Homo sapiens: one gene and its partners. The protein of the gene in region 1 interacts with the protein of each later gene in a pairwise test. Each region holds a gene or a part of one and is shown on either strand. Other genes may lie near its edges. The genes, in order: MIB1, UBE2U and UBE2W.

Region 1 (3,657 bases):
ACAGGTGCATGCCACCACGCCCAGCTAATTTTTTGTATTGTTTTTAGTGGAGACGGGGTTTCACCTTAGCCAGGGTGGTCTTGATCTCCTGACCTCGTGATCTGCCTGCCTCAGCCTCCCAAAGTGCTGGGATTACAGGCATGAGCCACCACACCCAGCCCTTTTCATTCTTCTAATAGTGATTTGGAAGAGTCAAATTTTTTAATTTTGAGGAAGTCTAATTTATCAAGTTTTTCTTTCATCATTTGTGTTTTTTGTGTGTGTTCTGTCTGAGATATCTTTGCCAAACCCAAGATCGCTAAGGTTTTCTTTTATGTTTTGTACTAGAAGTTTATAAAGTTTTAGCTGTTATGTTTAGGTCTATGATTCTTTTTGAGTTAATTTGTATATATTGTGTGACATATGGATCCAGGTTTATTTACTTGTGGATATCCAGTTGTTCCAGTGCCATTAGTTGAAAAGACTTTGTTTCTTTTCTTTTTTCTTTTTTTTGAGACAGAGTCTTGCACTGTTGCCTGGGCTGGAGTGCAATGGTGTGATCTTGGCACACTGCAACCTCTGCCTCCTGGGGTCACGCGATTCTCCTGCCTCAGCCTCCCAAGTAGCTGGCATTGCAGGTGCACACCACCACACCTGGCTAATTTTTTGTATTTTTAGTAGAGACAAGGTTTCACTATGTTGGCCAGACTGGTCCCGAACTCCTGACCTCATGATCCGTCTGCTTCAGCCTCCCAAAGTCCTGGGATTACAGGCATGAGCCACCACACTCGGCTGAAAAGACTTTCTTTTTCTACTGAATTGCCAGTATACTTTTATCCAAAATCAGTTAATTGTTTATGTGAAGGTCTCTTTCTGGATCATGTATTCTGTTCTGTTGGTCTATGTTTTTAGCTATTTGATACCAGCCCCCAGTCTTAATTACTGTCTACATAATACGTGTTGAAGTCAGGTAGTGTCAGTCCTCCAGTTTTCTTGTTTTTTCGAAGTTATTTGACTATTCTAAGTCCTTCACATTTCCATAAGAATTTTAAAATCATTTTTTAGAGGGTAAAAAGGTTCTGAGACCAAAGTGTTTGAGACCTCTGCCTTATTTATGACCATGGGTAAGTTCTCTTAGCTCGGTGTGCCTCTTTTTTTCTCATTTTAAAATGGGAAGAGGAGAGCACTTACCTCGATAAGGTTGTTGTAAAGATCATGGAAAGTGTGTAAAATAATACTTGATCCATTTTAGACACTCAATAAATGTTAACAGTTATTGTGACTATTTTCACATAAGATGATGAGAAGAATCTCAGATAATATTATCAGAACCTAATTTGTCTCATTCTCCGTATCTTGGCTCAATTCCTAGTCATTGGTTCTTTTCTCAGTTGTCTCTCCTGTCATTGTTTCAAGTTGGTTGCTAGCTGCTCCAGAGCCAAATTAATTAGGAAAGAGAGTACTGTTTCTTTAGTATCTCAATCAGAAGTTCCACTTTTGAGTTCTGTTGGGCTTAATTGACTTGATTTGTGTTATGTGTCCATCCCGGTTCTAGCCATATAGGTAAGGTAGAGGTATCTGACTGGTTTGGGCCATGTTTGGTCCACCTCTGCAGCTGGAGAATGTAGGTCCACCTCTACAACTGGAGAAAGCATACTTGTGTGTATGCTTGAGAAAACCAGGGGTAGAGTGGTGGGGAGGGAACATTAGGACTAGAACTCATAAGTGTCCACCACACACACATACATATATATGATGACAAGAATTGATGGCAGATTCCTAGAGGGAAAATCATGACTCTTTATTTTATTGCAGTTAATAATGGGACTTGGTACCCAGGGGGCAGAGAAGAAGAGTGCAGCATCTATTGCCTGTTTCTTGGCAGCCAATGGTGCTGACCTGAGCATTCGAAATAAGAAGGGTCAATCGCCACTTGATCTCTGTCCTGATCCGAATCTCTGCAAAGCACTGGCAAAGTGTCATAAGGAAAAAGTCAGGTTTGTATTATTTATTATCATAAAACTTAATATTCTGTACAGAAAATATCATGTGGTTTCGTAATGGAGGACGTGGCTACTTGAAAATGTCTTCATCTTTGCTCTTCCTGTATATTTGTGTTGACCCTTTCTTTCCTGAAATTTTTCTTCCTTGAAAATTTTTCTGCAGGCAGCATGTCTCTTATTTTATGCCATATTCCCCACATTATTGAGTGCAATGCTCTATACTTAATAAGTTCTGAGAAACTTTTCTAAACTAGTCTGATCTTCTAGTACTCCCATGTGTTAGAGGGATTTATGAGAAAAAGTCTTCTAGTAAAATTGCTGTTGTTAATGTTACATGTATTTTAAATTGTATTTATTTTTTATTGTATTATTATTATTTTTTAAAAATACGTCTTGCTGTGTTGCCCAGGTTGGGCTTAAACTCCTGGGCTCAAGCAATCCTCTTGCTTCATCCTCAGTAGCTGGGACTGTATGCATGTGCCACTGTGCCTGGCTCTATATTTAAAATTTAAATAGAATCTTCCTAAGACAGGCAACTTATACTCCATGAACAGGGTATATCTCACACAAACTGTAGCACCCTGCTCAGTGCCTGACAGGTGCACTCAGTATCAGTGGAGAATGAACAAATGAATGCACCAAGTCCTGGTGGAGTTTTCTCTAAAGATGATCATTTCACATTTGTCTCTTTTTCTGAAAGATATGTCAGTGATTTTAATTATTATTTATGACATAACTAATTTCCTTATGAGATTTTATAGATGTACAAAAAGGTACACATCTCATTGCTTTTTTAAATCTGAACAGTGCTGTGCAACTGTTGTTGCCCTTTGTACCTGGTTCTTGTCACTGAAATTTCAGTAGCTGTTCCTTAACCTTAGTGTTCCTTGCCTCTCTCATAATTTATGTGTAGTGATGAAATGTCATCTCTTTGGAATCTGTGCATAGAACTGTGTTATAGAGGAAATTAATATAGTGAGGTATATACATTTCTTTAAGTGTATTGTTAAGGAACATGAAATTCTATTACAAAAAGAGAATGCATCGGCCGGGCGTGGTGGCTCACACCTGTAATCTGAGCACTTTGGGAGGCCGAGGCAGGTGGATTGAGGTCAGGAGTTCAAGACCAGCCTGACTAACATGGTGAGACCCTGTCTCTACTAAAAATACAAAAACTAGCTGGGCGCATGCCTATAATCCCAGCTACTTGGGAGGCTGAGGCAGGAGAATTGCTTGAACCGGGAGGCGGAGGTTGCAGCAGTGAGCCGAGATCACACCACTGTACTCCAGCCTGGGCAACAAGAGCAAAATTCTGTCTCCAAAAAAAAAAATCTATAAATATAAAGATATAAGGCACTATAATTATTGCAGTAATAACTTTTAAACAATGGAGTCTAAGGTGGACCCTCTGTGTACGTGTTGTGTACGTGTTCGTGAGTTTCTGAAGATTGTGGTAGAAACAGGGCATCCCTTTTCTGTAGCTGTAGGTGGTCATATGTATTTCTGTTCCTTGTATCTGTGTTTACGGATGCAGTCTATCTTTCTGTAATATAATTTTATGTTCCTTAAGGATACACTTAAAAATGTCAAAACAGCAGCTGAAGTGTTAAATTTTCCAAAGTGCCCTATCTGTTGTGGACTCTGATGATGCTTTGTTCCGTCTTTAGTAAGGCAA
Region 2 (3,657 bases), on another chromosome or scaffold:
TGATGAGCATTTTTTTAAGTGTCTGTTGGCTGCATAAATGTCTTCTTTTGAGAAGTGTCTGTTCATATCCTTTGCCCACTTTTTGACGGGGTTGTTTGTTTTTTTCTTATAAATTTGTTTAAGTTCTTTGTAGATTCTGGGCATTACCCCTTTGTCAGATGGGTAGGTTGCAAAAATGTTCTCCCATTCTGTAGGTTGCCTGTTCACTCTGATGGTAGTTTCTTTTGCTGTGCAGAAGCTCTTTAGTTTAATTAGATCCCATTTGTCAAGTTTGGCTTTTGTTGCCGTTGCTTTTGGTGTTTTAGTCATGAAGTCCTTGCCCATGCCTATGTCCTGAATGGTATTGCCTAGATTTTCTTCTAGGGTTTTTATGGTTTTAGGTCTAACATTTAAGTCTTTAATTCATCTTGAATTAATTTTTGTATAAGATGTAAGGAAGGGATCCAGTTTCAGCTTTCTACATATGGCTAGCCAGTTTTCCCAGCACCATTTATTAAATAGGGAATCCTTTCCCCATTTCTTGTTTTTGACAAAAACATTTCTATGCCACCTACTTTTCTTCAAGAAAACTTTGTTGCCAAAAGTTTTCTTTTCATTATGTACCCCAAAAAGTAGTCGTCCCCCAAAAAAATTTTGTAAAATTTTTGATTTCCATATGTAAACTCTTTCTCCAAGGAAATGCTCTAATAGCTTGACTTGGGCTCATTGATGTCTCCCATAAGCCTGTTGTTTTATCCAGGATGAGTCATTAATTTTTCTGATAGAATTTCTCCCCTGTGTAGTGGGTTGAATCATGTCCCCACAAAACAAACACCTGTCCCCCCAGAACCTCAGCATATGACCTTATTTCAAAATAGGGTCTTTGCAGATATAAATAGTAATTAGTTAAGATGAGGCTATACTAGATTTAGGTGGACCCTGAGTCCAATGACTGTTGTCCTTATAAGAGAGCAGAACTACAGAGACCCACACGGAAAAGGTCATGTGACATTGGAAGCAGAGACTGGAGTGATGCAGCTATAAGCCATACAATGTAAAGGATTGCTGACAGCCAGCAGAAGCTAGGAAGAGGCAATAGAAGATTCTTCCCTAGGGCTTTCCGAGGGAGGGAGGCCCTGCTGCCACCTTGATCCCCAACATCTAGCTTCCAGAACTATGAGAGAATACATTTCTGTTATTTTAAGTCACCAAGTTTGTGGTCATTTGTTAAGGTGGCCCAAGGAAACTAATATACCTTGCTATACCACATGATGTTTTTATTACTTTTACTATGATGTTTTTTACTATGACATAAGTAGTAAACATGTCATATTCATTTGCTTTTCCAACTTCTATTCTGTTGGAAAGCACATATTGAAATAATTTTACTTTACCATTAAATTAGTCAAGACTCAGAATGGTTCCATATTCAAAGCCTATTGTTCTACTTTTATGTTTCATTTCATTTGTTTCACTTATTTTTCTCAGAAGTAAATATACCCTTACCAAAATTCATTTGGGAATTTAGTTTTCTTTTTCTCTTTCTAGGTATTCCGTTATCAAGTGTTGGCTTGCTAGAAAAAGAATGCCTCATGAAGTCACTCACTCAATGGAAGAAATTAAGCTCTGCCCAACTCTAAGTAAATCGATTCACTCTATTTGTTTTGCTTTTATAAATAACATATTATGCATAATATGCATAACTTTAAACTTTTTTCCATTTAAGTAAGTTGGAATATATGAGGGCTAATCCTTGTGTTCTCCTTTTAAGGTTGCTTTAACTTTTTCTGACTTTCCAAATTAATTTGGTAAATTAGTCACATAGGAATTGGAACTTTGACAGAATTGAGTTACTTATATTTTCAAGCTTACTACCCTTTAATAGGTTGATATACAATTTGAAATTTTAAGGCTAAGTTTCAAAATATGAAAAAGCAGCCAAAACACACAGAGCACTAATAAACTGATCCCTAAAACTCATTGTATATTCAAAGGTATATGCAATATGGTTGAAAAGAAAGAAACAATGCTGAGTTGTTTTTCGTGCTCTTTTAAAAATTACCATTTACTTGTTGGGATAGGTTGAGAGTGAGTCTTCAGCCGGGAGAGCTGGTAACTTACCATGGAAGTCAGCTGGTATAGAGGGGAAAGCATGACATTTGGGGATAGAGAACTTAGGTTCAGATTCCAGTTCTGTGCTACTATGGAAAGGTCACTCAACCTCTGAACTTAGTTTTTTTCATCCTTAGCTAGTACTGTGTATGTGGAAGATGTTCAACAAATCCTAGTTGCTAAAAATCTGCCCTTACTCACAGGATTCTTATGACTAAGTGACTCCATGTATAGACAATTTCTTTGTGAACTGAAAAGTACAAAAAAAAATAGTTACTGTTTTTTCCTGTCACCTGGCCACTAAACATAACAGCATATAAATGCCAGGCACAGGCAATCACCTTCATTCAGTGATTCTCCAAGGGCCCTGCCCCCGTATCTCCAAGTTTCTTTTCCCTGCTCAGTATCCACCTCTCTCCCTCCTAATTGTTTGGTGTGCCACGCAGATTTCCTCCTCTGTATTATCAGCCTCAGCCTTCTCCATTCAACTCTCCCTTCTTCCAGATTTCAGGGTACCTGTGAGGTAGGAAATGTTGCCTTCTCCAGCCTTGCTCTTTGCTTTCTCCATGATTTCCCTACTCCCCTCTGCAATCTCTGTCTTTCAACATCCCCACCATGTTCACCAGTGGAAGAGATCAGTTGGTTAAGTTGATGTGATTACAGTAATTTTTGTCTATGCTTTGTCAGACTGGTGACAAAGCTATGTCTCTATAGCTCAGCTCTGCTTATGTTTTTACCAGGTCTAAAATACTTTGTTTCCCATTTTCCTTCAGGATAAAATTTAGACTCTTTGACACAGAAAATCCTTAATGCTCTAATACTTGTCTCTGTCTTTGCAGTGACATTCCCTCCCTCTCCCCTTCACAACCTAAATGCTACACTAAGCTAGTGGGTCATGATTGTTTGTTCCCTACCTCATTTCATAAAAAAATTTGAGCAGTACACTGTGTTTTCTCATACCCCTACTCTAAATGCTCTTCTCTCCCCTTCTTTACTTTCTAATGCCTATGCATCCTTTGAGATTCAGTTCGGGTATTACCTTTTTTAGGAAACTTTCTTTGTGGGTTATCATAGCACTTCTACCATAGCCGTATCATGCTCTATTTGTTTTCTATTGCTGTGTCACAAATTAGCACACATTGAATGGTTTAAAACAACACACATTTATTATTTTACTGTTTCTGTGGGCCTGGAGTACAGGCACAGCTTAGCTGAATCCTCTGCTTAAGGTCTCAGAAAGCTGCAATCAAGGCTTTGGCTGGGCTGCATTCTCATCCTAGTGGTTTGAATGGGGGAGGAATCTGCTTCCCAGCCCAGTGAGGTTGTCGACAGAATCCATTTTCTTCTGTCTTTAGGAATGAGGGCCCTGGCTTCTGGCTGGGTATATGTGGGAGGCCTCCCTCAGCTGCTGAGGGCTGCACACAGTTCCTTGCCATATGGGCTCTCCCAGCCTGGCCTCCTACTTTATCCAGCAAGAGTCTTTAGAGCAAGTCTGATAGCAAGATGGAGTCATATGTGATGTAACATAATCATGTGAGTGAGACCTTATCACTTGCATCCTATTTT
Region 3 (3,229 bases), on another chromosome or scaffold:
AGGAATGCCTGAATAGAAGCTGATCTATCTTAACATACCTCAAGAACTCCAGTTTTAATATGGTGAGTGAGGAGTTGACTGGGAAAAGGAGAGATCCAATTCTTGTTCTAGTCCTTGGCACATACACTCTCTGGGTTTTGAGAAAAGGATGGTCCTACAACGATTCTAAGTTGTTTTCTCATTGGTCCTACAACAATTCTAAGTTGTTTTCTCAAAGGCAAAAGCATGATTTCAAAATGACATCACTTGTCAGATTTTCTGGTGTATGGAAAGATTTAATAATCCTGCCTCTTTTGAAGCCTGAAACTTACAATTTAAAGCCTGAAATCTACCATAAGGAACTTGGTAAATTGTGTCAGATACCATGAAAATGCATCTTTTCATAGTTAACCACAGATTGTTTATGTAAAGGCAAATTGGTGGTCAGGTTCAAGGTAAAATGGATTATTGGGTTGATTAGTAGCCAAAAACTAAATGCATGTTCAGGTCAAAATGAATTTGTTTGTTTTAGTTGGTGCCATTTTCCTTTTATTATTCAGAACTACAGAGTGTGCATTTTATTAATAGGAATGAAAGCTCATGCTTGAGGATTTGAATAGGGTGGATGTATATATTTTATAAACTCAAGTTGCAAAATATGTAAAGTCACTACTTTTTAAATAGAATATAAATGTTAAAACAGACAAATCTATGTTATATATTTTTTAATACATGTATCAGACTTGTTAGTTGAATGCAGATTACTTTGCTTTATGGAATTTCATAACTTTTAATAATAAAGCAGTTGTTATTGGATTTTTTCTGTAGACTTGAATACTAAATGGGATAGATACCAGACCTCTTTTTGGTTTATGACGTAAAAGTATTTGTACAGTAGTTTCTCTTCACAAAAGACTGAATTTTAAAGGATTATAGAAACAGGAACATGTCCATTTCCAAAATGAGTGCAACAGAATGAAGATAGTCACTTAAACCATCTATTTAACACATCACCTTTATGTAATATGTAGCTAGTTTTAGTGTTTTAATAAGTCCCAACTAAAGACTGAGTGTTTTCAGTGAAGATGGAAATGGAGACCCAGGCACTTGCTTAGAGTTATCGTGAGTCCGATGTTCCTGAACTTCAAGTTGTACAATTAAGGGCATACTCTAAGAACTTCTGGATGCTTTCTGGAGTATACAAACAGATCAACTAATGACTTAAATGAGTGACTCTTGAAGCTGCAAGAAGAGGAAAGAAATAACCACAAGAAGGGGCTATCTCAGCATCTGTTATTCCTGACAGGAGGAATTAAATATGCTCTGCTGGTAATTCTAAGCTTTTCTGCAGGGGATCTGCTTGCCCCAGGAGCACCTTAGTCCTCATTGAGGCAGCCATTCTGCCATAAAAACGATCATGTCTCAAGCTGTTCCTGCCGTCCTACACAACTATGTTAGTAGATGGTTAGATAAATATATGAACCATCTTTTGTACTTTGATGATGCCCTTTTCCTTTATTATAATCCTTAATTTCTACTTTCCATAGTAGGATTTGACTTTTCTCCATTAGTTTAAGCTACCCTGGATAAGTGACTCTGTTTATGTCCTCCCTATATTTCTTACTCATTTTCACACTAACATAACACGTAACAAAATTAAACATAAGCTAAATTGAAGAAGCAAGTGAGACAGCTAAGAGTTTTGTGTACTTGGACAACAAAGCTCAAAGCCACTGTGGTTATCTGTCCTGTTGGGAGCCCCTTTCAACCATTTTTTTAGTTGCCTGTAAGATTTATTTTTAATGTTTGCCTGCATAATGCAAAATACATAAGTGGGAATCCCTACGCCCTTTACAGTTAAGTGGATTATGGAAATAATAAGGAAAGTTTATCAACTAAGGTAGGAAATATCTTCTCATGTCTGTATCTGGCCTTCAGGGACTTAATGTGGGTGAATATATGTCATTAGACAAGATCCTAATATAGATGGCTGTATCCTGCAGATAGCCAATTCAACATTAAAATTTTATGTTTCCATACCTCAATGAAAACATATTTCTTTTATCCTGTTATAATTTAATGACATTCCCATCCAACTTAATCAAGCAATGATACTCAGTAGTCCTCTCCTTGCATTTTTCAAGTCCTGTTGAGTGTAACTTTAAAATGTCTCTGAGATTTCTACCTTCTCTCCAGTCTCCTTACCATTAGGGCCTTTCACTACCTGGCCTTGGTGTCCCTAGGCTGCTCTTCAGCTGTCCACAAACCTTGTTTCATAAGCAGTAGCAATGCAAGCTTCCACTGCCGTCTGCTAATGTTCTTCCCTCCTAGAATGTTCATGATCTGCGTTTCTACCTGAAAGGTCTAGTTCAAAGGTAGCTGAAAGGTTATCATCCTTGTCCTTTCTTCTCTCCCTACCAGTCATCTATCCTGAACTTTTTAACAGTAGGGACAGTGTTGCAATTGTGTTTGTGTCCCCAGCACGTAGCACACAGTACCTAGTATACAGTACCTGTAGCACATAGGCATTTAATAAGTGTGTATTGAATTAACTTGGTTATGCTTGTATTTTTATCCTAGCTTTCTCAAAGAAACTTAGGTGCTAGCTATTTTGAAACATATATCCAGAACCACCACCTGAGTAAAATGTATAACAGGACCCTGCTCTTTCTATCCCAGAGAGTTTGAGAAAACTACTTTTAAATAAATCATTAATCATTCTTCATTGGTTTTGGCTTTTTTTATAGGTGTTTCTCATATCTTTATCTCTGAGGCAAATTGCTTGTCACAAATTAATTGTTTTAAACTAAATACATCTCAGGAACCATAAAATCATAAAGGTAAACCTGACATAGAGTTTAAAAACCAGCATTAAGCAGATAATTATTGTGTGCCTTTCATATGCCAAGAAGGATGGCAGATGAGGTATATATCTTCAAAGGGCATATGTAATAAGGGAGATAATAAATAGAAAAGCATATCATATAAAATGTGACAAGCCTTAAGAGGTGCAGATAGTTTCTGATTATCAAAGAAACATGTCTGTGAAAAGTACTGTCATGCATAAAGATGGGCCAGGCACAGTGGCTTACGCCTGTAATCCCAGTACTTTGGGCAGGTGGATCACGTCAGGAGCTTGAGACCAGCCTGGCCAACATGGTGAAACCCCGTATCTACTAAAAATAAAATAACGGCGTGGTGGTGGGCGCCTGTAATCCCGGCTACTTGGGAGGCTGAGGCAGGAGAATAG

Evidence for each region.
Region 2: the proteins of MIB1 (region 1) and UBE2U interact in a two-hybrid assay, tested with the Homo sapiens proteins (one large-scale study listed by BioGRID and IntAct).
Region 3: the proteins of MIB1 (region 1) and UBE2W interact in a two-hybrid assay, tested with the Homo sapiens proteins (one large-scale study listed by BioGRID and IntAct).

Annotation. Positions count from the first base shown.
Region 1 is NC_000018.10:21,845,150-21,848,806, forward strand, and holds part of MIB1 (E3 ubiquitin-protein ligase MIB1), read left to right. Parts: intron 1-1,794; coding exon 1,795-1,976; intron 1,977-3,657. UniProt on the Homo sapiens protein: E3 ubiquitin-protein ligase that mediates ubiquitination of Delta receptors, which act as ligands of Notch proteins.
Region 2 is NC_000001.11:64,259,076-64,262,732, forward strand, and holds part of UBE2U (ubiquitin-conjugating enzyme E2 U), read left to right. Parts: intron 1-1,527; coding exon 1,528-1,619; intron 1,620-3,657. UniProt on the Homo sapiens protein: Catalyzes the covalent attachment of ubiquitin to other proteins.
Region 3 is NC_000008.11:73,785,694-73,788,922, reverse strand, and holds the end of UBE2W (ubiquitin-conjugating enzyme E2 W), read left to right. Parts: 3' UTR 1-2,704; downstream 2,705-3,229. UniProt on the Homo sapiens protein: Accepts ubiquitin from the E1 complex and catalyzes its covalent attachment to other proteins.